7 linked regions of the Homo sapiens genome follow. The protein of the gene in region 3 purifies or fractionates together with the protein of the main gene of each other region. This does not show direct contact. Each region holds a gene or a part of one and is shown on either strand. Other genes may lie near its edges. The genes, in order: ENOPH1, LAP3, PGM3, PUDP, OLA1, NUDT9 and BLVRA.

What was found.
Region 1: the proteins of PGM3 (region 3) and ENOPH1 fractionate together in Homo sapiens (co-fractionation; one large-scale study listed by BioGRID). This does not show direct contact.
Region 2: the proteins of PGM3 (region 3) and LAP3 fractionate together in Homo sapiens (co-fractionation; one large-scale study listed by BioGRID). This does not show direct contact.
Region 4: the proteins of PGM3 (region 3) and PUDP fractionate together in Homo sapiens (co-fractionation; one large-scale study listed by BioGRID). This does not show direct contact.
Region 5: the proteins of PGM3 (region 3) and OLA1 fractionate together in Homo sapiens (co-fractionation; one large-scale study listed by BioGRID). This does not show direct contact.
Region 6: the proteins of PGM3 (region 3) and NUDT9 fractionate together in Homo sapiens (co-fractionation; one large-scale study listed by BioGRID). This does not show direct contact.
Region 7: the proteins of PGM3 (region 3) and BLVRA fractionate together in Homo sapiens (co-fractionation; one large-scale study listed by BioGRID). This does not show direct contact.

What each region holds. Positions count from the first base shown.
Region 1 is NC_000004.12:82,447,590-82,451,089, forward strand, and holds part of ENOPH1 (enolase-phosphatase E1), read left to right. Parts: intron 1-330; coding exon 331-432; intron 433-3,453; coding exon 3,454-3,500. UniProt on the Homo sapiens protein: Bifunctional enzyme that catalyzes the enolization of 2,3-diketo-5-methylthiopentyl-1-phosphate (DK-MTP-1-P) into the intermediate 2-hydroxy-3-keto-5-methylthiopentenyl-1-phosphate (HK-MTPenyl-1-P), which is then dephosphorylated to form the acireductone 1,2-dihydroxy-3-keto-5-methylthiopentene (DHK-MTPene).
Region 2 is NC_000004.12:17,594,198-17,597,697, reverse strand, and holds part of LAP3 (cytosol aminopeptidase), read right to left. Parts: intron 2,289-3,500; coding exon 2,164-2,288; intron 653-2,163; coding exon 564-652; intron 1-563. UniProt on the Homo sapiens protein: Cytosolic metallopeptidase that catalyzes the removal of unsubstituted N-terminal hydrophobic amino acids from various peptides.
Region 3 is NC_000006.12:83,176,266-83,179,765, forward strand, and holds part of PGM3 (phosphoacetylglucosamine mutase), read right to left. Parts: intron 2,492-3,500; coding exon 2,408-2,491; intron 1-2,407. UniProt on the Homo sapiens protein: Catalyzes the conversion of GlcNAc-6-P into GlcNAc-1-P during the synthesis of uridine diphosphate/UDP-GlcNAc, a sugar nucleotide critical to multiple glycosylation pathways including protein N- and O-glycosylation.
Region 4 is NC_000023.11:7,075,154-7,078,653, reverse strand, and holds part of PUDP (pseudouridine-5'-phosphatase), read left to right. Parts: intron 1-1,204; coding exon 1,205-1,434; intron 1,435-3,500. UniProt on the Homo sapiens protein: Dephosphorylates pseudouridine 5'-phosphate, a potential intermediate in rRNA degradation. Pseudouridine is then excreted intact in urine.
Region 5 is NC_000002.12:174,242,033-174,245,532, forward strand, and holds part of OLA1 (obg-like ATPase 1), read right to left. Parts: intron 1-3,500. UniProt on the Homo sapiens protein: Hydrolyzes ATP, and can also hydrolyze GTP with lower efficiency. Has lower affinity for GTP.
Region 6 is NC_000004.12:87,456,764-87,459,955, forward strand, and holds the end of NUDT9 (ADP-ribose pyrophosphatase, mitochondrial isoform a precursor), read left to right. Parts: intron 1-1,079; coding exon 1,080-1,258; 3' UTR 1,259-2,692; downstream 2,693-3,192.
Region 7 is NC_000007.14:43,765,180-43,768,679, reverse strand, and holds part of BLVRA (biliverdin reductase A), read right to left. Parts: intron 1,427-3,500; exon of another isoform or gene 977-1,426; intron 1-976. UniProt on the Homo sapiens protein: Reduces the gamma-methene bridge of the open tetrapyrrole, biliverdin IXalpha, to bilirubin with the concomitant oxidation of a NADH or NADPH cofactor. Does not reduce bilirubin IXbeta.

The sequences.
Region 1 (3,500 bases), on a different chromosome or scaffold from region 3:
GTTGCAAATACTGAATTCTGCCATTGTGATGCAAAAGTAGCCACAGACATTATTTAAATAAATGAGTGTGGCTATGTTCCAATAAAACTTCATTTACAGAAATAGGCAGTGGACTTGATTTGGCCTGCAGGTTGTAGTTTGCCGACTCTTGGTCTAGTTTATTTGTTTCTTGGCCTCTGTCTCTCTTTCTTGCTCATATTCACAGCAGCAATTTTCATAGAGTTCCATTGATTTATTTGTTACAGTTATGTAGGTAAGATTGTGGAAGAACTGGATCTTTTACAACTGATAAAAGCTAACTCTTGTATTTTCTTTTACTCTTTTATCCAGGACATTTTATTTCCTTACATCGAAGAAAATGTTAAAGAGTATCTGCAGACACATTGGGAAGAAGAGGAGTGCCAGCAGGATGTCAGTCTTTTGAGGAAACAGGTTGGGACATTTCTGTCTTAAATTCCCAAGTGTCTTAGAAATGAGGGTACCTGGAGATTTAGGACATGCTCTGAGCATTTTGTAAAATAAGTGCCCTGGTTTGATAGGGGATAGAAGTTGCAGTGACTTAGTGAGTTGCCTGCTTAGGAATTCACAGTACATAATTAAAGGCTGGATCATGTCAGTTTGTTGTTTCTGGAGTTGCTCTTTGGTTGTTTTTTTTTGTTTTGTTTTGTTTTGTTTTTTTTGTTTTTTTTTGAGATGGAGTCTCACTTCGTTGCCCAGGCTGGAGTGTGGTGGTGTGATCTTAGCTCACTGCAACCTCGCTTACTGGGTTCAGGCGATTCTCCTGCCTCAGCCTCCCGAGTAGCTGGGACTACAGGCACCTGCCACCATGCCCAGCTAATTTTTTGTATTTTTAGTGGAGATTGGGTTTCACCGCATTGGACAGGCTGGTCTAGAACTCCTGATTTCAAGTGATCTACCCTCCTCGGCCTCCCAAAGTGCTGGGATTACAGGCATGAGCTTACCACCCCCAGCCCACCCAAAAAGGGCTTAAGTTTGCAAATATATGATATTGTTAGGCAATTTAAATAGCTCTAGAAAAAGGCAACTCTAGGCTGGGCACGGTGGCTCACACCTGTAATCTCAGCACTTTGGGAGGCCGAGGTGGGTGGATCACTCGAGGTCAGGAGTTTGAGACCAGCCTGGCCAAAATGGTGAAACGCTGCCTCTACTAAAAATACAAAAAATTAGGCCGGGCGCGGTGGCTCACGCCTGTAATCCCAGCACTTTGGGAGGCCGAGGCGGGCGGATCACGAGGTCAGGAGATCGAGACCATCTCGGCTAAAACGGTGAAACCCCGTCTCTACTAAAAATACAAAAAATTAGCCGGGCGTAGTGGCCGGCGCCTGTAGTCCCAGCTACTTGGGAGGCTGAGGCAGGAGAATGGCGTGAACCCGGGAGGCGGAGCTTGCAGTGAGCCGAGATCCCGCCACTGCACTCCAGCCTGGGCGACAGAGCGAGACTCCGTCTCAAAAAAAAAAAAAAAAAAAAAAAATACAAAAAATTAGCCGGACATGGTGGCGGGCACCTGTAGTCACAACTCCTTGGGAGGCTGAGGCAGGAGAATTGCTTGAACGTGGGAGGTGAAGGTTGTAGTGAGCCGAGATGGCGCCACTGCACTCTAGCCTGGGCTACAGAGCAAGACTCCGTCTCAAAAAAAAAGAGTCCTTTCTGGGTAGAATGCAAAAGGTTTTGAGCAGTCTCTACATTTTTTATTAACGTCTCTATATTAGTCTGTTCTCACATTGCTGTAAAGAAATACCTGAGAGTGGGTAATTTTTAAGAAAAGAGGTTTAATTGGCTCACAGGTCTACAGGCTATACAGGAAACATAGCGGCATCTGCTTCTGGGGAGACCTCAGGAAGCTTCTAATCATGATGGAAGGCAAAGCCGGAGCAGGCGTCTCAGATGGTGAAAGTCAGGAGCAAGAGAGTGGGGAGGGGAGGTGCTACACACTTTAAAACAACCAGAACTCACTATTGTGAGGACAGCATCAAGGAGGATGGTGCTAAACAAACCATTCACGAGAAGTCTATCCCCGCGATCCAGTCACCTCCCACTAGGCCTCACCTCCAGCACTGAGGATTACATTTCAATGTGCAATTTGGGTGGGGACACACATCCAAGCCATGTCATTCTCCATATGACAGTACTTCATCATTTTGCACTCCCTCCTTCCTTACTGCAAGCCCCTGCTGCCCCCTCTGCAGTGCTCCTGGGTCCTCACACTCACACTCCCCTTCCAGACTCCTCACCCCAGCTCACTCTGGCCCAGCCCTCATACCTCCTTTGGTCTCCTGTGCTTTGTTCTACCCTCTTCTCCCCACCAGTCATCAGTCTGTCTTTTCCTTCCACATTGTGTGCTATGGAACTCCTGCTCTGTTGTTTTTCTTGTTAAAATTGCTTCAGTGGCAAAGATCTTACATGGTCTGCAGAGCTAACTCACTGGCAGTTATTTTCTAGTTCTATATTGGATACTGTGGAATGCTCTCTGTGGATGTTTTACTGTTAGGAATTAGGATTCAAAATGTAGTTATGTCCTTTGGGCATGGAATATTTGGGATTTTAATTTTCTGGATAACTCAGGGTTAATCTGAAATACAGTGAGTCCTTACTTAATGTTGTCTTTAGGTTCTTGGAAACTAAGTGAAATGACACTTAAATTTCAATTTTCAATTTTAAACCAACCATAACAAAACCAATTTTTTCTCCACATAAATGTTATAACAAAATGATGTTGAAGGAAATGACATTACTTGAGAAGGTCATGCCACTTGAAGTCACAGTTTCCAAGAACCTTTCAATGATGTTAAATGAGGACTTACTTTACTTTCCTCCCTTACCTTTTTTTGTTGTCAAAACCTTGTTGAAACATACATACATAGTCCCCCATTATTGTATATAAATATGTACACATGTATCTTTAGAAATTGGACTGCTTTGTCACAAGGTCATTGTTCTAAGTGGCTACTAGGATTTTTGCAAGATGTGGGAGATTATAGGAGACTGAATGTGAACCAACCTCATTACTTCACTAGCTTCTTTTTGCTGAATTCCAGGCATAAACTAATTTATGAGATTTTCTTTGTTTCTTTCTCCATTAGTTATAGTGCAGAGAAAATTATCAGATTGAGTTAAAGTCCTGGTTTGTTGATCCCAGTAGTGAATCAACAAATCAAATCTTAATTCTATCATTATGTGCTCTCTCTTCTCATATACAACATGCGTCTCAGTTTAAATTTCAGCTTTTAGCAAAAGGAAAGGTAATGTAAATTTATTAATCCAGGTTCTTTTAGGAATCATTTGTATCAGCTCCAAAGTATATGATGTTTCAATTTGCAGCCATACTAGGGCTAATGATGGAGAAAGTTGTTCTGCTGGGTTTTTGGGTCTCGTTTTAAATGACTGTTTTTTGAATAAGCAAAAAACAAACATCATGTTGTTTCTGACTTAAAGGCTGAAGAGGACGCCCACCTGGATGGGGCTGTTCCTATCCCTGCAGC
Region 2 (3,500 bases), on a different chromosome or scaffold from region 3:
AAATTCATGGAAACGTGTGTATACACATGTATAGCATACAGGAAATGGGAGGAACAATAAGTCTGGAAAAACATTCTTCAAAATCCCCCAAAAAAGATACTTCTGCCTTTGCAAGAAAAGCTACTCAGGGGCCGGGAATGGTGGCTCGCGCCTGTAATCCTAGCACTTTGGGAGAACAAGGTGGGCAGATCACTTGAGTCTAGGAGTTTGGGACCAGCCTGGGAAACATGGCAAAACCCTGTGTCTACAAAAAGCTAGCCAGGCATGGTGGCACGCACCTGTGGTCCCAGCTACTCAGGTCGCTAAGGTGTGAGGACCACCTGAGCCTGGGGAGGTCAAGGCTGCAGTGAGACATGATCACGCCACTGCACTACAGCCTGGGTGATGCAGCGAGACCCCATTTCAGGAAAGGGAAGGAAAAGAAAGGCTACCCAGCACTAAAGACAGCACCCTCCCCTAATATGGTTCTGGGGCTCTGCACGCATCCTAGCTGTGGTTATGTGGCCACCACGGGATTCCTGAGGAACGCTGGATGGGGAGTGCTGTGTCTCACATTTACAAACCTGGATGGTCTTCCCGTTTTTGGCTCTAACAACATCCCCCGGCTTGTTGGCCTTGCCGCTGGGCATATTTTCACAAAGAGGGGCCAGACCTATTGGAAATAATATATGAAGGCACACAGTATATACTGGGTCCAAACATGCCACCTATGGGACAAGAGGCCACCTGTGAGCCATGAGAAGCAAGACACAAAGGCCACCTTAACGAACTGATCAAATTTAACATCACCAATGACACAACTGACATGATGTGTCAGCAACAAGAAGTACACATCACCCATGTAGCATTCTTCCCAAAGAAGTCTAACTTGATTCTAATCAAGAAGAAGCAATTCAAATAAATACAAATTGCAGAATATCATGAAACAAGCCTAGACCCTTCAAAACTGCTAATGCCGTGGAAGAAAACAGGAATAGGGTCTAGAATCAAGAAATCTAAAGGGGCACCAACAGCAATGTGTGGTCCTTGATTAGTTTCTGGATTTAAAAGCTAAATATAGGCCAGGCGCGGTGGCTCATGCCTGTAATCCCAGCATTTTGAGAGGCCAAGGCGGGCAGATCACCTGAGGTCAGGAGTTCAAGACCAGCCTGATCAACATGGAGAAACCCCGTCTCTACTAAAAATACAAAATTAACCAGGCATGGTGGCGCATGCCTGTAATCCCAGCTACTCAAGAGGCTGAGGCAGAAGAATCACTTGAACCCGGGAGGTGGAGGTTGTGGTGAGCCAAGATCGCGCCATTGCACTCCAGCCTGGGCAACAAGAGCGAAACTCCATCTCAAAAAAAACCAAAAAACCAAAAAAACCTAAATATAAATAAATAAAATGGACATTTTTTACACAACTGGAAACTTGAATTAGGTTACTGAATTAATCCTCGGAAAAGATAATGGTTTTGTCATTACATAGAATGTCCTTTTTCTTAGAGGACGTGTCGTGATGTCTGCAACTGACTTTTAAATAGTTCAGGAAAAAAAAGGACTATGATAGTGAAGGAGGGGGGCATGTCTGAGACCTGGATTCCAATTCTACCTTCCTTGTGCAATGGACAAGAGTCAGGGCATTATTATTTAACCTAAGACTCTCTCCTCCTTCCCCGTCTCCTCTGAAATGAGTATGAGCAATGCTATTATACAAACTCCCAGTACTGTGCCTGGGAGTTTGTATCTTCCATTACTAAGAACTGCCACATAATGAGCACTTTTTCTGTTCTAGGCACTTTCTGTGTGTTGTGCCATTTCACCGGCCACAATCCTACGAAGCAATCAGTCAATGAGCCAGCAACGTCCTGCCACCCCAAGTACCCAGCAAGTTTCATAATGTCAACTACAAACTTGACATTATGTGCCCCTGACTGCTAGCCACTTTTTGCAGAAGTGAAACAAATCAATTCCAGTTACAGCCCACTGGTTGCAAGATACATTTAGCTCAATCAGCTCAGACAGTAAAACACTTATCTGGGCTAAATAGCTACTGCTTGATGACTATTTAAAAATCATTTCTTATCTTTTCAGATTAGGGGAAATCATATCTGTTGTCTCTCTTCTCCCACCTGGCTAGAATCCAGAAGCGTTATGAGATGTAATCCGTTACCCCACTTACCTATAATATTAATGGGCAAATTAAGCTTTGCAGCAGACACGATGGCTGAGCATATAGTTGCAGCTCCTCCCATGTCAGCCCTCATGAGGTCCATATTTGCAGAAGCCTTGATGGAGATACCACCACTATGGGGAAATGGACAACGTGCAATATTAAGAGCAAAGAAGATGGCCAAAATCACTTTATTTAAAAAGTACAGATGGGCACGGTGGCTCACGCCTGTAATCCCAGCACTTTGGGAGGCCGAGGTGGGCGGATCACGAGGTCAGGAGATCGAGACCATCCTGGCTAACACGGTGCAACCCATCTCTACTATAAATACAAAAAAATTAGCCGGGTGTGGTGGTGGGCGCCTGTAGTCCCAGCTGCCACCATGCCTGGCTAATTTTTTTGTGATTTTAGTAGAGATGGGGTTTCACCTTGTTAGCCAGGATGGTCTCGATCTCCTGACCTCGTGATCCGCCAGCCTCGGCCTCCCAAAGTGCTGGGATTACAGGCATTAGCCATCGCGCCCAGCCTTTAGCTCATTTTATTTCTACTTGAATGAAATTTAAACAGTGCCACTGGAAACATTACTATATCATAAAATCAAGACTGTGCAAATTCCATCTCTGTATTGTCTGATTAACTCCTGACACCCACATAGTCTATTCAGCAAATTTTATGAATTGATCAACTTATGGAACGTGAAGGTCATGAGCTGTTAAGAAAAGCTGATGAGCTCACAGAGATGACTGGAGGCATTTCTCTGAAACCGACAGGACAGAGGGCTAACATTTCCTTCCAACACTGCACAAGGTGTGCTATATCCTGCTGATGGCAAAATACAACCTAAATGAGGCACAGGCCCAATGGCTGAGAGACAGTACTTCAACATGAGAACTGAATAAGGCTGCAATTAGCAAGAAACCAAACTACCTGACCCCCAGAGGCTTCTAACTAGCTAGTGGTTTTTCTGCTTCCAGTCCGTAGGAGTCCAGAAGCAACATGCTTCACAGGCCAAGCACAGAGCCAGGGGCTTCGACTCTAAGTTCTAATTGAGATCTGCTGCTCATGTGCCCTGGTGGCTCACTGGAGAGAGGTCTGCCTGCTGCTCTGAAGTCTGCTTTCCTTCAAAATTAAATCCTAATTCTCACTTACCTCAGAAGCACTTGTTACTTAGATGGTTGGCATGTTCACCAAGAATTAAAGATGATCCCCTGGCTCAAAGAAGAAAAATAACATGGGTAAACCCCATGGACAAAGGGAACACGCTGTTGTATTTGAAGTTTTTCTTCTGTCCACCTGCCACATTTATCTGCAGGCCTCTTCTGGAAGTTCTGCTCTCTAATTCCTAT
Region 3 (3,500 bases):
GGTGAGAGAGATGAGGGTCTCCTTATAAGACACGAAAGATTACAAGTGGGGGCGTGACATGACCTAACTGTTTTAGAAAGCTGTTTAGCTACAGTGTGGAGAATAGCTTAGAGCAGAATTGCAAGCTTTTTCTGTAACAGGCCAGACAGTAAATATTTTAGGCTTTGCAGGCCATATGGTCTCTGTCACAATTACTCTGCCATTACAGTGCAAAAGCAGCCACAGACCATACATAAACAAATCAACATAGCTCTATTCCAATAAAACTTTGTTTGCAAATAGCAGCAAGTTCAATTAGAAGGTTAAGAAATGGAATGAGGAGGCTTCTAGGACTAATCCCAGTAAGAAATAGTGGCTGGATCAGCAATAGTGAATAGGGAAAGTCATGGATGGATGGATCTGAGAGAGCTTTAAGAATGGTTAAGGAAAGATTGATAGTAGAAAAACTGCAAAAGAAAGATCAGCATTAGATTGGATGTAGGAGACCTCAGGAATGGCAAGGGCTAAAAATATTTCATCTGGAAGACAGTGAGTTGAGAAGTAACAGTTTCTTAAACTAGGTTATTTTATCTGTAATAAATTTTTAAGACAGAAAATGAAAATCCTAAAACAATAACCCAAGTACTGTGAAATAACCCAATCCCTGTGAAAGGCAGGCAAATGGGCCCCAGATGGAATCCCTTGAATGAGCTTATTATAACCATATATTAAAATCAGGTCATAAACTAGCAGCCTCAAGATATATTTCGTTTTGCCCAGCCACTGTTTCTTTTTAAACAAATAGGAACATCACATGAAAATTCAGATTTCCTGCTTCTCTTGAAGAGTGTGACTACAGTTGACATCAGCTGGCACATACTGACCTGTTTTTAGCCCCCTGCTGCCCTCATTCACTTTACCTGTCCAAATCCTGCAGGAATCTGACTTTGTAATTCCTGCTTTCTAGAGAATGGAAAGGTAACTAAAACTAGTATAAATGCCAGAACGAGGTACAAAATGAGGTACAAAAAAGTTGGAAAACTTCTCGATAATGAGAAAGTATAGGCAAACAGACTTCCAGTTTTGTCCATGAACCCTGGTAACTCTCCGAGCAAGTAGTGTGGTGCCAAGGGTGGTCACCTGGTGGACACCGGGGAAATAATTAGAAACAGAATCTCCCACCACCCCAGAAAACCTCTCCAAAAAAAAAAGAAGGGTAAGAAACAGTTTTATTACTGAATAAGTATTAAGCCAAACTGATGTTCAATCACAGGCTAATTTGCTAAGAGATAGCAAAGATAAACGCTCACCCTTTAATATAGCCAAGCGGACACATTCCAATACAATTTGCTAAGATAAAAGATGGCTAATGACAAAAATTCTCTCCTTGACCAAACTTTAGTTAGGTTTAGGTGGGCCTGACTAGGCCTTGTCCTTAGGCATGTCTTCCAATAGCCCGATTTTAATAAGAGTCATGCTAAGTGAGCTTAGCGAGAATCCCTCATCCTGATACATGACCACTCTTGACATCTGATCTGAGTTCTCATTCTCTACCATCCCCCAGGTAATATGTGACCGCCCTGGCCTACCTTCAGCAAAAGTCCTGTTAGATCAGTTTAGCCAAAATACCACCCACTTACCCTCATGTTTCCTCTCAGTAATTTTTCATCCACTGACCACCCCCCACACACCCTGCTCCTTGGCTATAAAGCCCTACTTTTCCTTACTATATTTGGAGTTGAGCCCAATCTTTCTCCTACCACTGCAAAACTCCATCACATTAGTCCCTGTACCTATCACAACAGTCCTGAATCAAGTCTGCCTTACCATTTTAACAAGTGTCATGAATTATTTTTTCTTTAACACTAGTCCTCAAATAGGAAAACTTGAAACCACCATTTGTCACACACATAGTTTATCCTAAACTTACTTGGTAATAGGGATGGCCACCTGTGTTAACTGCCCTTCTCTAAAGGAGTAATAAAACTTTTCATACCTCTGTGACAGGTAGATAGTTACAAATTGGACGCAAACACCTAAGTTAAACTCTCCTGAGACTGGGAGATAGGTGAGCTATCTTCCTTGATGTTTATATTTGAAATTGGTGACTCTAGGCCCTTAAAGAAAAGTATTCCTGAGCTATAAAACTGGCTTATTAGGCCTTTAGAAAGACTTACATTCATTACAAAGGCACAGAGAAAGAATTCCAAGTTTTCTAAAGGAAAACTCCAAGAAAAGGAAGGAAAGAAGTTTTCCTTTATTCATCAAGGACAACTAAATTTTTTCTTATTTATTTCTCTTTACCTTTACATGAACAGCAGCTCAGCTTCATGCACTACAACATAATCACTTTTATGAGGGCAGTATCTTTCTCACAGAAACATGATCTTAATTAAGAAACTACCAGAAAACAAAAATGGTTCAATACCTTCATAACTTCTTCAAGATACCGTGTTGAACTTCCATTTGCATATGCAGTTTGTACAACACCAATATTCAAACTTTCTCCAATCTAGACAAAAACAATGATACTTAACTTGCCATCAAAAGTATGGTCTACAAAAACAAATATAATGAGAGTTCTAAAGGCTACCAAAATTATCAGCCAGTTCAGTTGTGCCTTAGTTTATGCCAAAAATGTCTGACTGAAAATTTACATGTATGCCAGGAAAAAAGCCTAAAATACATTTGAACACTATTTAAAACAATTCTATGAGAATTCCTCTTTTAAGAAGCCTGTATCTCCTGATCTTCACCTCTTTAATTTTTTAAATAAAAGTATCTGGCCAGGCACGGTGGCTCACGCCTGTAATCCCAGCACTCTGGGAGGCCAAGGTGGGTGGATCACCTGAGGTCAAAAGTTCGAGACCAGCCTGGCCAACATGGTGAAACCCCATCTCTACTAAAAGTACAAAAATTAGCCAGGTGTGGTGGCATGCATCTGTAATCCCAGCTACTTGGGAGGCTGAGGCAGAAGAATTGCTTGAGCCCAGGGAGGCAGAGGTTGCAATGAGCCGAGATCACGCCCCTGCACTCCAGCCTGGGCAACAGAGCAACACTGTCTCAAAAAAAAAAAAAAAAAAAATCTATTAAATTCTTAAAGTATGCTGTTTCCAGATTATAATAATTTCCAATTACATTGTGTACTTAAAGCTAGCCTGAGATTTATTTCTAAAATAGCAAAATGAAACAAATCTCACATTACTAAGCTTATCATAATCAGTTAATATATCAGATGATGAGATTTCCTATTAGAATTTAGGGCTTTTATGGAGTGACCACAGAACTGTCATCAAAGTTTCAATTATGATGGAAGCAAAACTTCCTAAAGCTTCAAATCACAAAACTCAGCCAGTATAAGGAGGAAAAGAGTACCTTCAGGTTCCAAAGCCAATGCCTCAAATGTTCAAATGACTGGGTATTACCACTGCTCTTTTTTTAATTTTCTGCCCACTAATGTAAAGAATTTGTCATAAATTGTGCCCTTCTGACAAATGATTGTAAAATATGGAACTATTTCA
Region 4 (3,500 bases), on a different chromosome or scaffold from region 3:
GACATTAAATCATGACATTATTAAAATAGGCATGATTATACAATTATTTAAAATAATTTTAGGCCAGGCGTGGTAGCTCATGCCTGTAATCCCAGTACTTTGAGAGGCTGAGGCAGGCGAATCACCTGAGGTCAGGAGTTTGAGACCAGCCTGGCCAACATGGTGAAACCCCATCTCTACTAAAAATACAAAAATTAGCTGGGCGTGGTGGCACATGCCTGTAGTCCCAGCTACTCTGGAGGCTGAGGCAGGAGAATCGCTTGAACCTGGGAGGCCGAGGTTGCAGTGAGCCAAGATCAGCCATTGCACTCCAGCCTGGGCAACAGAGTGAGACCCTGTCTGAAAAATAAAATGAAATTTTAGGCAAACCGTCACACCTTGTGTGGATTTAGATGTTCCTGTTGTGCTAGTCGCATAAGTTAAAGGTAGGAAGGACTCCTGGTATTTTTGATTCTTTCTGATAACTAGTCCTCTCATGATTGGCTCTATGATGACCTCCATGGACCTGTGTGGTCCCTGTAGTTAATCCGTGTGGCTAATGACAGTGTGAGGATGCTCTTTTCATATGGCACGTTGCTGTTGATCAGCTGTGTTCAGCAGCTTTCTTTTGTCCCCTGATCCCTTGTTAAGTAGCGCTGCAGCAGTCCCTCAGCCACAGCCTTCTTCAGCATCTGGTGGACGCCTTTGTGTAATTTCCTCTCCTTAGCAGGGTGAAGAATGATTGAAGTGTTTTCTGTAGAATACAGCATTTTTGCAGAAAACACCAAAAGCATAGTCCTTGTGTATTTACTGCTCTGGAAAAAAAAGTATGGTTCAGCGAGGCCCTGCTGAAGGGCCTTCCCCGGTGCCCTGGCCAGATCCCAGGTCCAGTCACCTCCTGGGCCTGCTCTCTGCCCTTCTCCACGTTTCATAAGGAGGCCCAGCAGGCAAAGCAGCAGTGCCTCCCAGTGCGCTCTTCTTCTGTTCCTTTGGGAAACGTATCGCTCAACCGCCAATAGCTTTTTTGATTTTTTGGTTTGTTTTATTTGAGCAGGGATGTTGTGGAGCTGACAACCGCTTTTAGACAATCTGTCCTAGGTCAGAAATTCCTCAAAAGGAGCAGCCTGAGAGTGTGCTGCCACACAGCTGGAGGGACTGTCCCTGCAAGAAGGTCTTATGGTGGAGGCCTCGCCCCTCACCTCAGTCCTTCCCTCCTCCTCCCCAGGGGCGGAGAAACTCATCATCCACCTGCGGAAACATGGCATCCCCTTTGCACTGGCCACCAGCTCGGGGTCCGCGTCGTTCGATATGAAGACAAGCCGCCACAAGGAGTTCTTCAGCTTGTTTTCCCACATTGTGCTGGGAGATGACCCCGAAGTGCAGCATGGCAAGCCAGACCCGGACATCTTCCTAGCTTGTGCCAAGAGGTTCTCTCCCCCTCCTGCTATGGAGAAGGTAAGTGGGTGCCGGTGACACGGGCCGTGTTCCACAACCATGTTCCACCAAATAATATCCATGTAGTGTTTGCTAAATGTGAAAAGTTGTGGTTTGTGCTGTTGAAGGCCACTTTGCAATGCTCCCTAGAACTTGGGTATGTGGGCAGGGAGATGGTCTGGTTGGAAGATTTTGTGAGGAATCGTGGCCGCACCTAAGTCACCAGGCCAGGGAGACTCAGCCAGAATCCACTGGGTCTCAGGGACAATCTGAGAAGCTTACAGTGCCAGAACAAGGCCTATTCAGACATTTTCCAGGGAAGCGGCGGTTTTAATGATGTGGGGCTTAAAACAGTCTTATTGTCTAGGTGCAGGCTTTAAGGTGAGTATTCACTGCAGTTCAGATGTAAATCACTAAAACTCACTTCCCCTCCCCAACTGCTTATAGAGTGCTCGTTGGTTGCTGCAGTTTTTGCTTGTGTAGTGACGCTGGGTTTTTATCGCCAAGTTTTTGGACTTCCATCCATTTCTCCATTGGAAAGTGGCAGCTGGTGGGCTTGTATGCCGTGGCACCCCCTGTCCCGCACCACGGCTGCTTGACCATGCAGGGTATGCAGTGGAGACGGCCCCTGGCTCCCTCTTCTTGTTAAATAAGGCTCCTCCTCAGGTGACCTGGGCAGAGCGTTTAGAGAGCCGACCGCTTGTGGTGGCTGGGCCTGGCTCCAGATTCCTCTGACCGTTCTGTGACTGCCAAGATGGAGTCCTTGGCCTGAACGATCTGCAGGTACAGATTCCAGAATCACAGGAAGTCACCCTTGAAAGGGGGGCTCCCGCTGGCGATGTAAGTGTAAGCAGCTGGGGAGGGCATCCGTCGGGGAGTCTCTGCAAATGCCTGCTTCCCCTGGGTTCCTGCATGTGAGGACTTTTGTGGTTTGTGGGGAAGAGCCTTTCAGTGAGAGGTCTTTTTCAGGCCTCACCTCTCATTACTAACCAGTGACACCAATCACGAGCTCAGGGAAATTACTCAGAAACCTTCCCAATAAAGCGGAGCTACCGGAGTAGTCTTGAAAGACCTGTTTTTTGTTGTTGTTGTTTTGTTTTGTTTTGTTTTTTGCCCAGGGTGCAACTTACTACCTTGAGCCTATAGAGGCAGCCGGAACCTGTGCCTCAGTACACAGGCCTCTGATTCTCTGAAGCTAAGTGGGCATCCAGCAATTCAGTTCAGTTCTGACACTGACTCCTACGGTTAGCCCAGACCCCGAAGGTTAAGGCCCCAGTCCCACAAGACGCCCATTGCACGTTCCAGGGGCCACCTGTACTTCTGATTGGCTACAAATTGGGGGTTCCTGCAATCCTCTCTTCAGGTCTAATAATCCCCTAACATGACTGACAGAGCTCAGGAAAACACTTTCATACACTTGCTGCTTTGTTATGAAGGATAAAACTCAGGGACAGCCAAATGGAAGCAAGGCATTGGCCAATGTATGGCGGGTGGTTGCAATGCTCCCCTGCCCTCTCTGGGCACCTGACCCTCCCAGCACCTCCATGTGCTCACCAAACTCAAAGCTCCCCAGGCCCCTTATGTAGAGGTTTTTATGGAGCTTTCTTACGTAGGTGTGAGTGATGACATCACTGACGATTGCTCATTGAACTCAATCCAGGCCAAGGTGCCCTCCCTGGAGATGAGGGGGAGGGCTGAAAGTTCCAGTCTTGTTTGTTTGTTTGTTTGTTTGTTTTGAGATGGAGTCTCGTTCTGTTGCCCAGGTTGGAGTGCAGTGGCATGATCTCGGCTCACTGCAACCTCCACCTCCCGGGTTCAAGCGATTCTCCTGCCTCACCCTCCTGAGTACCTGGGATTACAGGCGTGTGCCATCACGCCTGGCTAATTTTTCTATTTTTAGTAGAGACAGGGTCTCATCATGTTGGCCAGGCTGGTCTTGAACTCCTGACCTCGTGATCCACCCGCCTCAGCCTCCCAAAGTGCTGGGATTACAGGCGTGAGCCACCGTGCCCAGACCTAATCTTCTAATCGCATATTTGGTCTTTCTGATGTCCAGACCCTGTCCTAAAGCTATCCTGGGTCCACTA
Region 5 (3,500 bases), on a different chromosome or scaffold from region 3:
ACAAAGGGATGTTGGCAGAAGTATGGTATGGCAGTTTACAGGAAAAAGGCTGCTAGTCAAGTTTGGCCCCCTGACCCTTCGGATAACCAGCTGCCTGGAATTCACAACACCTTAGACCAGCAGCCGCCAACCTTTTTGGCACCAGGGACTGGACCGTGAATTGGCTGATGGAAGCCAATTTTTCCACGGACCAAGGGTGTGGGGGATGGTTTCAGGATGAAACTGCCCCATTTTAGATCATCAGGCATTAGTTCGATTCTCATAAGGAGCGTGCAACCTAGATCTCTTGCATGCGCAGTTCACAACAGGGCCTGCGCTCCTCTGAGAATCGAATGCTGCTGCTGACCTGACCGGAGGTGGAGCTAAGGTGGGAATGCTCACTCGCCTGCTGCTCGCCTCCTGCCATGCAGCCTGGTTCTTCACACGCCACAGATCGGTACCAGTCCCCAGCATGAGGTTCGGGAACCCTAGCTCTAGACCATGAGGATGAGGCCACATCCTAGGGATTGCCAAGCTGTGAAGTGAAAGGAGCATGGGTTCCTGAGGACTTCATAAAGCAGGTCCACTATACCAAGCTATGACTGCAAAATGTACATTTTTACATGAAGAAAAAAAACTGGTTATCTGGGGTTTTCTGATGCTCTTAATTGAACCTAATCCCATCTGATGCAGTGGATAGCAACAAGAAGAGCTATCCCTCACAGAAATAAAGAAGTTTGGAACACTGTATCAAAACGTACTTTCGCCCCCAATATTCTCTAAGCCTCACAACCACAATAATACACTGCTCCAACAGGAGCTCATTTATAAAGGGTCACTCAGGTAAGAAAAAGCAGTACAGAACTAGAAACCAAATCTCCATATTCTTTCTACTTCATTAAAAGAGGTCATTTAATTGCCCAGCACGGTGGCTCACACCTGTAATTCCAGCAGGCGTGAGCCACCACACGGGGCAAGGAGACAGGCTTTTTTGTGTTTTTGTTGTTTTTTTTTTCAGATGGAGTCTCGCTCTGTCACCCAGGCTAGAGTGCAGTGGCGCGATCTCAGCTCACTGATACCTCCGCCTCCCAGGTTGAAGCAATTCTCCTGCCTCAGCCTCCTGAGTAGCTGGGATTACAGGGGCGTGCCACCACACCTGGCTAATTTTTGTATTTTTAGTAGAGATGGGGTTTCACCACGCTGGTCAGGCTGTGAAACCAGCCTCAGGGCAGCATGGTGAAACTCCATCTACAAACAATACAAAAATTAACCAGGCACGGTGTTTTGTGTGCCTGCAGTTCCAGCTATTCAGGAGGCTGAGGAGTAGGGACTGCTTGAGCCCGGGAGATTTAGGCTGCAGTGAGCCATGATCATGCCACCGCACTCCAGCCTGGGCAAGAGAATAAAATCTTGTTCAAAAAACAAAAACATGTCTCCTTATCACTAAATCTACATCCAGCCGTCAAAGGGGAAATATGTATCCCATTAACAAATAATTACTAAATATCTACTATGTTCCTAACACCATCGTGTCCCGTTAACAAATAATTACTAAATATCTACTATGTTTCTAACACCAGTCTAGGCACTAGAAATATACCAATAAGCAAGAACGAGACAATCGGTACCTTCCTACCTTCACAGAATTTAAATTGCAATGGAGGGGAATGTCAAACCACTTATTAAATTAGATAATATATATAAAGTACTCAAAATAGCGATTGGCATATAGTAAATGTTCAATATCTGATTAGCTATAAATATTACCTCTAAGTTTCTGGGTCATCAGCCTTATGCAGACTAAAAAGTAAGCCTTCCTATTCACCCAGCTAAAAACCAAGAGATTCTCTAGATGGTTTTGTACTGAATGTCCTTACTTTTGATCAGCAGGCCATCCTTTAGAGAACCGTCTCCCTCCCACAATCTATATCTTGTAGATCTATACAGAAGCACACAAGTCCGGTCGGATTTCCTTACTCAGGAATTGGAATTACAGGAGAGACAGGAAATGAGAAACACCCAGAAATCCAGGGATTCACATGGCTGAGCTCCACATGGACCCATTTCTGCCAGCACCACTTGGCTCTTATCCCTCTTGAGGCCTGGCTGTTCAGATTGTAATTCACTTATTCCAATAAACCTCTTTTTCCTGCTGAAAACAGCCAGAATTGTGTTGCTTACAAAGAATCCTACCTGATACAGTTGTGTGAAGTAAGATCATTCTACAAAAAGTAGTGTTTACAACCAAATACAATTGCCGAAACTCATTAAACTGTACCTTTAAAATGAGTGAATTTTACTATTTGTGAAGTATACCTCAATGACACTGGGAGGGGAAAGCATTTTATTTAAAAGTGTAAACAGCACACACACTTATTCTGAATAATAAAATATTTTTAGGTTACTTCCACGTACATTAATTTCATTATGCTCTATGACTAAAAAGCTATGGTCGTCCCTCCATAGCTGCAGGGGATTGGTTCTAAGATTCCAGCAGATTGAGTCCCTTATATACAATGGTGTAGTATAATACCTAATGCAATGTAAATGATAGGTAAATAGTTGTTTACTATTTTTTTTACTGTTATATTCTCATTTTTTATTTAATTAAAAAAAAATTTTTTTTTTTTGAGACGGAGTCTCGCTCTGTCACCCAGGCTGGGGTGCAGTGGCGGGACCTTGGCTCACTGCAACCTCCACCCCCCGGGCTCAAGCTGTTTCTCCTGCCCCAGCCTCCCGAGTATCTGGAATTACAGGCTCCTGCCACCATGTCCGGCTAATTTTTGTTGTGTTTTTTTAAAGTAGAGATGGGGTTTCGCCATGTTGGCCAGGCTGGTTTCAAGCTCCTGACCTCAAGTGATCCACCCACCTCGGCCTCCCAAAGTGCTGAGATTACAGGCATGAATCACCATGCCCAGCCAATTTTTTAAAAAAATATTTTTGATTTGAGATTGGTTGAATCCAAGGATGTGAAACCACAGATACAGAGGGTTGCCTATATGTACAGAAAACACTTAATATGGCCCATTTTAATATAGTCCCATTTAAAATCAAGTTGTAGTAACTGCAACAATTCTAGAATGAGAAGTATGTCAATATCTCAAAACTTAACTTCCTTACTAGTGCAATAAAGCTCACAACATAAATAATGATCATAGCTTGCTTTCACGTTTATTGATAGCACCCTACAGTATTTTGATTAATTATTTGTTTTGCTTACATTTCAACTCTCTACTTAGTCTTACTCTGCAAGCAGACTATATCACAGCAGGAAACCCCTTCAAAATGAAAACCTCTTCAAGCTCCAGGAAAGACTGAAATCAGGACAGCCACACTTGCTCATGTTTTACATTACATGAATTTAAGACATGCCTCACTTGGTCACGCCATGCTCTGTTCATTGAGGAATCTCTATGACAGGAGCTCCTCGGAATACCTAAGAACATGATTGTCCTACTTGCCACCAATCTAAAAGGCCACCCTTGATCACTTTCACAAATCCACACTGAATCTGCTACCTA
Region 6 (3,192 bases), on a different chromosome or scaffold from region 3:
ACTAAGAATACAAAAAAATTAGCTGGGCGTGGTGGCAGATGCCTGTAATCCCAGGTACTCGGGGGGCTGAGGCAGGAGAATCGCTTGTACTCAGGACGCGGAGGTTGCAGTGAGCCGTGATTGTGCCACTGCACTTCAGCCTGGTCAACAACAGCGAGACTCCATCTAAAAATAAATAAAATAAAATAAAATATTTAAGTAATGTTGCCTTGAATACTTTAATAGGCTTGTCTCTATTTCATCAGAATAAATTCTTCAAAGAGGAATTACTGGATTGCTTATTGTATCTTCAGTGCCTAGTACAGTCTGGCACACAAGATGCACTCTGATATTTACAGAATGAGTGCTTGTCAAAGAAAACTTACTTTTTAAAAGCTCTTGATAAACATTGCCAAATTTCCTACAGAAATATTCCATTTATATTCCCAGCAGTGATTGGGAGCACTTATTTTTTATTTTTTTGATAATTTAAATTTTTTTTTTTTTTTTTTGAGGTGGAGTCTCACCCTGTTGCCAGGCTGGAGTGCAGTGGTGTGATCTTGGCTCACTGCAACCTCCACCTCATGGATTCAGACAATTCTCTTGCCTCAGCCTCCCAAGTAAGCTGGGACTGCAGGCATGTGCCACCACTCCTGGCTAATTTTTGTATTTTTAGTAGAGATGGGGTTTCACCATGTTGGCCAGGCTGGTCTCGAACTCCTGACCTCAGGTGATCTACCCGCCTCAGCTTTGTTTATTTTTTTACATTTAAATCTCTCATCCCTCTTGGACTGATTTTGATGTAAGGTTTCATATTCATGTAATATAATCTCGTTTTTAAGGATAATCTTTTTAGAGAAAACTCTTTGTGTTTATCTAAAATTTAGGGACTTGGTTAAAATTTGGACATTTTGGAATACTCTAGTTTTTTTTCTTTTATTCATTCTGCTGACCAGGGATGGAATGGTCTAGTTTTTAATTCACTTGGCCGGCTAGTACAATGATGATATAAGATTATTTTAAATAAGAATACTTGACGACATAGATATGCTAAAACAGAAATGAGTTTTTCTTGGTGATGGTTTTTCTTTGGCAACCAGGTGAGATAATGGATAATCTTATGCTAGAAGCTGGAGATGATGCTGGAAAAGTGAAATGGGTGGACATCAATGATAAACTGAAGCTTTATGCCAGTCACTCTCAATTCATCAAACTTGTGGCTGAGAAACGAGATGCACACTGGAGCGAGGACTCTGAAGCTGACTGCCATGCGTTGTAGCTGATGGTCTCCGTGTAAGCCAAAGGCCCACAGAGGAGCATATACTGAAAAGAAGGCAGTATCACAGAATTTATACTATAAAAAGGGCAGGGTAGGCCACTTGGCCTATTTACTTTCAAAACAATTTGCATTTAGAGTGTTTCGCATCAGAATAACATGAGTAAGATGAACTGGAACACAAAATTTTCAGCTCTTTGGTCAAAAGGAATATAAGTAATCATATTTTGTATGTATTCGATTTAAGCATGGCTTAAATTAAATTTAAACAACTAATGCTCTTTGAAGAATCATAATCAGAATAAAGATAAATTCTTGATCAGCTATAACTTCTGTTTCATCTAGTTCTTGTTTGTCAATGCCTTCCCTCCCGCTCCCCATCTTCTGAGGCCTGAAGGATGTTCCTGCCACATCAAACTCCTTTAGGCAGAGTACCGCCACTGGATGTATAGTTTAATGTTTCATCTGATTTTTCTTTAAATTATTTCCTTCACATTTTGCTTCACATGATCTTGTTGAAGCTAATTTTGAAAATGGAAACTATGTTTTCTTGACTTTAGAAGCATTAGTTTTAAGAGGAAATTTCAGCCACTAGTCAATAGAGATCAAAATCAGTGAACAAGAGCTGATACTCTCATTTTCAAAAATTCTGAATTAAAAAAAGTCCAGGAAGTTAGTAATTTAAATCAGTATGTTCATTTCACTCTAGTGAAACTACTATATGTTGTAAATTAGTTAAAAATGGATGTTCAGAAAAGAATTGAAATCAGGACAAAAAATTACAGATGCTAGTGAGGTTGTAGAGAAAAAGGAATGCTTATACGCTGTTAGTGGGAGTGTAAATTGGTCCAACCATTGTGGAAGAGAGTGTAGAGAGTCCTCAAATATTTAAAGATATTTGACCCAGTAATCCCATTACTAGGTATATACCCGAAGGAATATAAATTGTTCTATTATAAACACATACTCACGTGTATGTTCATTGCTGCACTATTCACAATAGCGAAGACATGAAATCAACCTAAATGTTCATCAGTGATAGACTGGATAAAGACAATGTGGTATATGTACACCATGGAATACTATGCAGCCGTAAAAAAGAATAAGATCATGTCCTCTGAAAAGACATGGGTGGAGCTGGAGGCCATTATCCTTAGCAAACTAATGCAAGAACAGAAAACCAAACACTGCATGTTCTCTTATAAGTGAGAGCTAAATGGTGAGAACACATGGACATGGGAACAACACATTCTGGGGTCTATTGGAGGGTGGGAGGAGGGAGAGGATCAGGAAAAATAACTAATGAGTACTAGGCTTAATACCTTGGTGATGAAATTATCTGTACAACAAACCCTCATGACACAAGTTTACCTATGTAACAAACCTGCACATGTACCCCTGTACTTAACAACAAAATAAACACAAAGGAAAATGTTAGCCATGTGTGAATTTTAAACTTCTTGGTAGTCACATTAAAAATAAAAAGAAACAAGTAAAATGGTTTGTAATTATTTAATCCATTATATCCAAAATATCTTAATATGTGATCAATATATAATTATTAAGTAATTATTTTGGTTCTATAAAAACAGGAACAGAGGTGGAGGTCTCTGTGAGTTAGTGTTTTTTTGTTAGGAAAGAAATGTTAAAGATTGAAATAGATTTTTGAGAAAAGCATGGTTAATGTTATAAATCCCAGAGGAAAGGAGGGGGTTGGTGCTTTGGGGGTTTTTGGAAGCAAGGAAAAGGAAAGAAAAGTAGTACTGCCTTGTCTTAGTGGACATGTTTATCTCATTCTGGCTAAGGATCTCTGTTGGAAAGCCCTGTGATAGGAACTCCTATCCACCTAAGTAGGGTTGGGCTATAGCTGGAGCATCTCAGGAAAAGCTTTAGGGGAGACAGACATTATTGTTTTCTTTCCTTCAGATGTTTGAAAA
Region 7 (3,500 bases), on a different chromosome or scaffold from region 3:
CAGATAACAGAACAGTGACAGAACAGATAACAGATAACAGAACACCCAAATGTGAGGAGGATGAGAACAGATGTGAGCCTCTCTGGGTCAGCTAGTTCATACACATTAACCCTAATCCTCAGAACCCTGGCAAAAAAAAAAGCTAGTATTAATTCCATTTTACAGACGAAGTGCCTGGAGTTCAGGGAGGGTAAAGCACCCTGCTTCACAGCCAAGGCACTGCGGCACTGCCCTGCAATTTCCAGACTTTCTGGTTCTAGACTCAAACCCAGGCTGTGCCAGAGGCCTTGACAGGTCCTGTCTTACATTCACCCAGAGAGCTTCAAGGATAAACAGGAGACCTGGTGTCCAGTCCTGTCAGTCCTGAACTACCCAAGCAACAACGACGGTCAAACGGGTCATAGGCTGTAGGCTGAATGGTTGGACTTCATCTCCAAGGTCTGCTCCAGCTCTAAATTGCTCTCTGGTTCCCAGAAAAGGAAATTCAGGTAACTCTTATAACAGGCAGAATGATACCCTCAGTCATGATCACAGAATGTAAATTCTGATTATAGCAAGAAGGCCTATCTGACTGACAGATCAAAATGTTTGCCAGAGTGTGTTGGTTAAAGTGTGGTCAGGAATACACTCTGATATTATTGGGGGACTACAAGTGGGTAGCATCTCTGTGGAGGGTAGTGCAGCAATAGCTCTTAAAATTCCAATCTGACCTAGCAATTCTACTGCTTCCTATTTCTTTCTCCAGCCCCCAAACTACATTCAGAAGAAACTGCCCTGAGTCCTTTGACCTTGCAGAAATCTCACTACTACTTGCTCTCCCTTTCTTTTTTTTTTGTAATTAACATATCTATTTGTAACTAATTTAACTTTTCCAAATTCTCATTTGCAAATGAGATTCATATAGTTAAAACTGAATATACAAACAACATATTAGGAGGATCAAAATTTACACTACTCAAACATGACTCCTTAAGACTGACTTTAACATGTTCTTTCAATTTTATTCAAATCAGATGTCCCCCCTCCAGCATTTATCATTTTAAAAAATGAATTTAATGCTATCAAAAGGTGATGTTCACTTTAATCCTGTTTGCCTTCATGTCACTGTCATGAGCCTTCATTCCAGACCACATACATAAAGAGGGCCAGCACCACATGGCCGGTGACCACGGCAACAATAGCAGCATAAAAACAGCTGTCCTTATTGGATATCCCAAGGGCGCCTCCAGATATATAAGATTTAGTTGTGAAATATAAATAACCCGATAGGAACAGTGATCATTAAAGCTGTGAAGAACAGGAGCGTCTTCAGTGTAGATGCTAATGAGCTTTCTTTTCCGAACTTAGGAGGCTGCAGTGCGTTCAGCGCCACTTTATCTGGGTGCTCCACAGTGTAGTTGTGCTGGCACAGGTGCTCGGTGGCAGGCTACTTGCTTTTCTTTTCTAATGAGATCTTAGAGGAAAGTTTTCCTATAAAAGTGGCCTACAGAACATTACTTATGAACTTTATTGTTTTCCTACATAATCTGGGGAAAGCAAAACAAAAGAAAACAAACAAACGAAAGGATGTGGAGAGATGCATATGCACGAGAAAGAAGCCTAAATGGAACTCGTACACTGGGCATCAGGGGTGTACCACCTAGAATAAGTGGCATTGCTGTTTATTTGTTTATTTTTCAGGGTCAGGGTTTTGTTCTTTAACACAGACTGGAATGCAGTGGCACGCATGATCACAGCTCACTGCAACGTCGAACTCCTGGGTTCAAGTGATCCTCCTGCCTCGGCCTCCCAAAGTTCTGAGACTGCAGGCATGAGCCACTGCACCTGGCCACATTGCTGTTTTTAAAGCACATTCAGCTGGGGTACCCCAGCTAGTTGCTCACAGAGCTGTGAGTGACTGGCAGGACCTGCCATGGTCACATAACTGTAACGGCCAGACAGATCCTTTCTGTGCTGTTTCCCCTTCTGCTTTCAACTCCCCCTTACGATAAGATGCACCGTCAGGAGAGGCAGCAATCCCAGGCCAAGCGAGATCTGGCTCCACCTTCCAACTCTCTGCCTGCCCATCACACAGCTCCCTCTCCTTTCCTCCCCATTGTCTGGCCAGGACTAGTTAAACTCTGAACAGAATCAAGGAGGAACTTTATTCTGTATTTTAATATATCTTAAAATATCTAAGACCTAATCCTGTAACAAAAAGGTTTTGGTTTGTTTAGTTTTCCTTTTTTTATTTAAATTTCAAAGGTGTACTATTTAAATGGTCAAACACAAAAACATTCTATTTTCTAACTTTTAGTATTATGCTGAGAAATATTTTCCCAAAAGACTTATATTAAATAGATACATTTTTATTTTCTTTTAGATTTTTAACTTTTTTTTTTTTTTTTTTCCCTGAGACAGAGTTTCACTCTTGTCACTCAGGCTGGAGTGCAATGGTGGGATCTCGGCTCACTGCAACCTCTGCCTCCCAGGTTCAAGCCATTCTCCCACCTCAGCCTCCTGAGTAGCTGGGATTACAGGCGCCTACCACCACACCACCACGCTAATTATTTTTAGTAGAAATGGGGTTTCGCCATGTTGGCCAGGCTGGTCTGGAACTCCTCACCTCAGGTGATCCACCCACCTCGGCCTCCCAAAATGCTGGGATTACAGGCATGAGCTACCACGCCTTGCCTTAACTTTTCTTTATTTACATTTTTATTTTTTAATCAAATCTAAATAGTATTTTGGTATATGGCATGAGATAAGGCTCTAAATTTACATTTCTCCAAATAGTTGAGTTGTTTCTACATTATCGAATATTTAATCCTTTCCCCCAGTGACTCCACATTTAAATTTTTATGAATACAGTTATTCTTTTTTTCACTTTTTTCTGCTGTATCACAGACCTCTATTCCCATGGTTATAACATACTGTTTACATGATTGTGGCTTTACAGTGTTTCAATACCTGGTAATTCAAGTTCTCTCATTAATTTTAGAACATCTTACCAAGTTAAAAAATTCCACTGGGACTGTGACTATGATTGCATCAAATTTATACATTAAATTAGGGTGAATTAATAAGCCTTCCCATCCAGAAACATGGTATGCCTTTCTAAGAGCAGCCAATTTAAAAATAAATAAATAGGCCGGGTGTGGAGGCTCACGGCTGTAATCCTAGCACTTTGGGAGGCCGAGGCGGGCGGATCACTTGAGGCCAGGAGTTCAAGACGAGCCTGGCCAACATGGTGAAACCGTGTCTCTACTAAAATTACAAAAATTAGCAGGGGGTGGTGGCACGAGCCTGTAATACCAGCTATTCGGGAGGCTGAGACATGAGAATTGCTTGAACCCAGGAGGCAGAGGTTGCAGTGAGCCGAGATCACACCACTGCACTCCAGCTTGGGCAACAGAGCAAGACTCTGTCTCTAAATAAACAAATAATTTAAAAAGAAGAATCTTGAGTTAGTTCCTGAATTATTGCATAATGACAAATAACAGCTCAGGCTGCAGTGACTC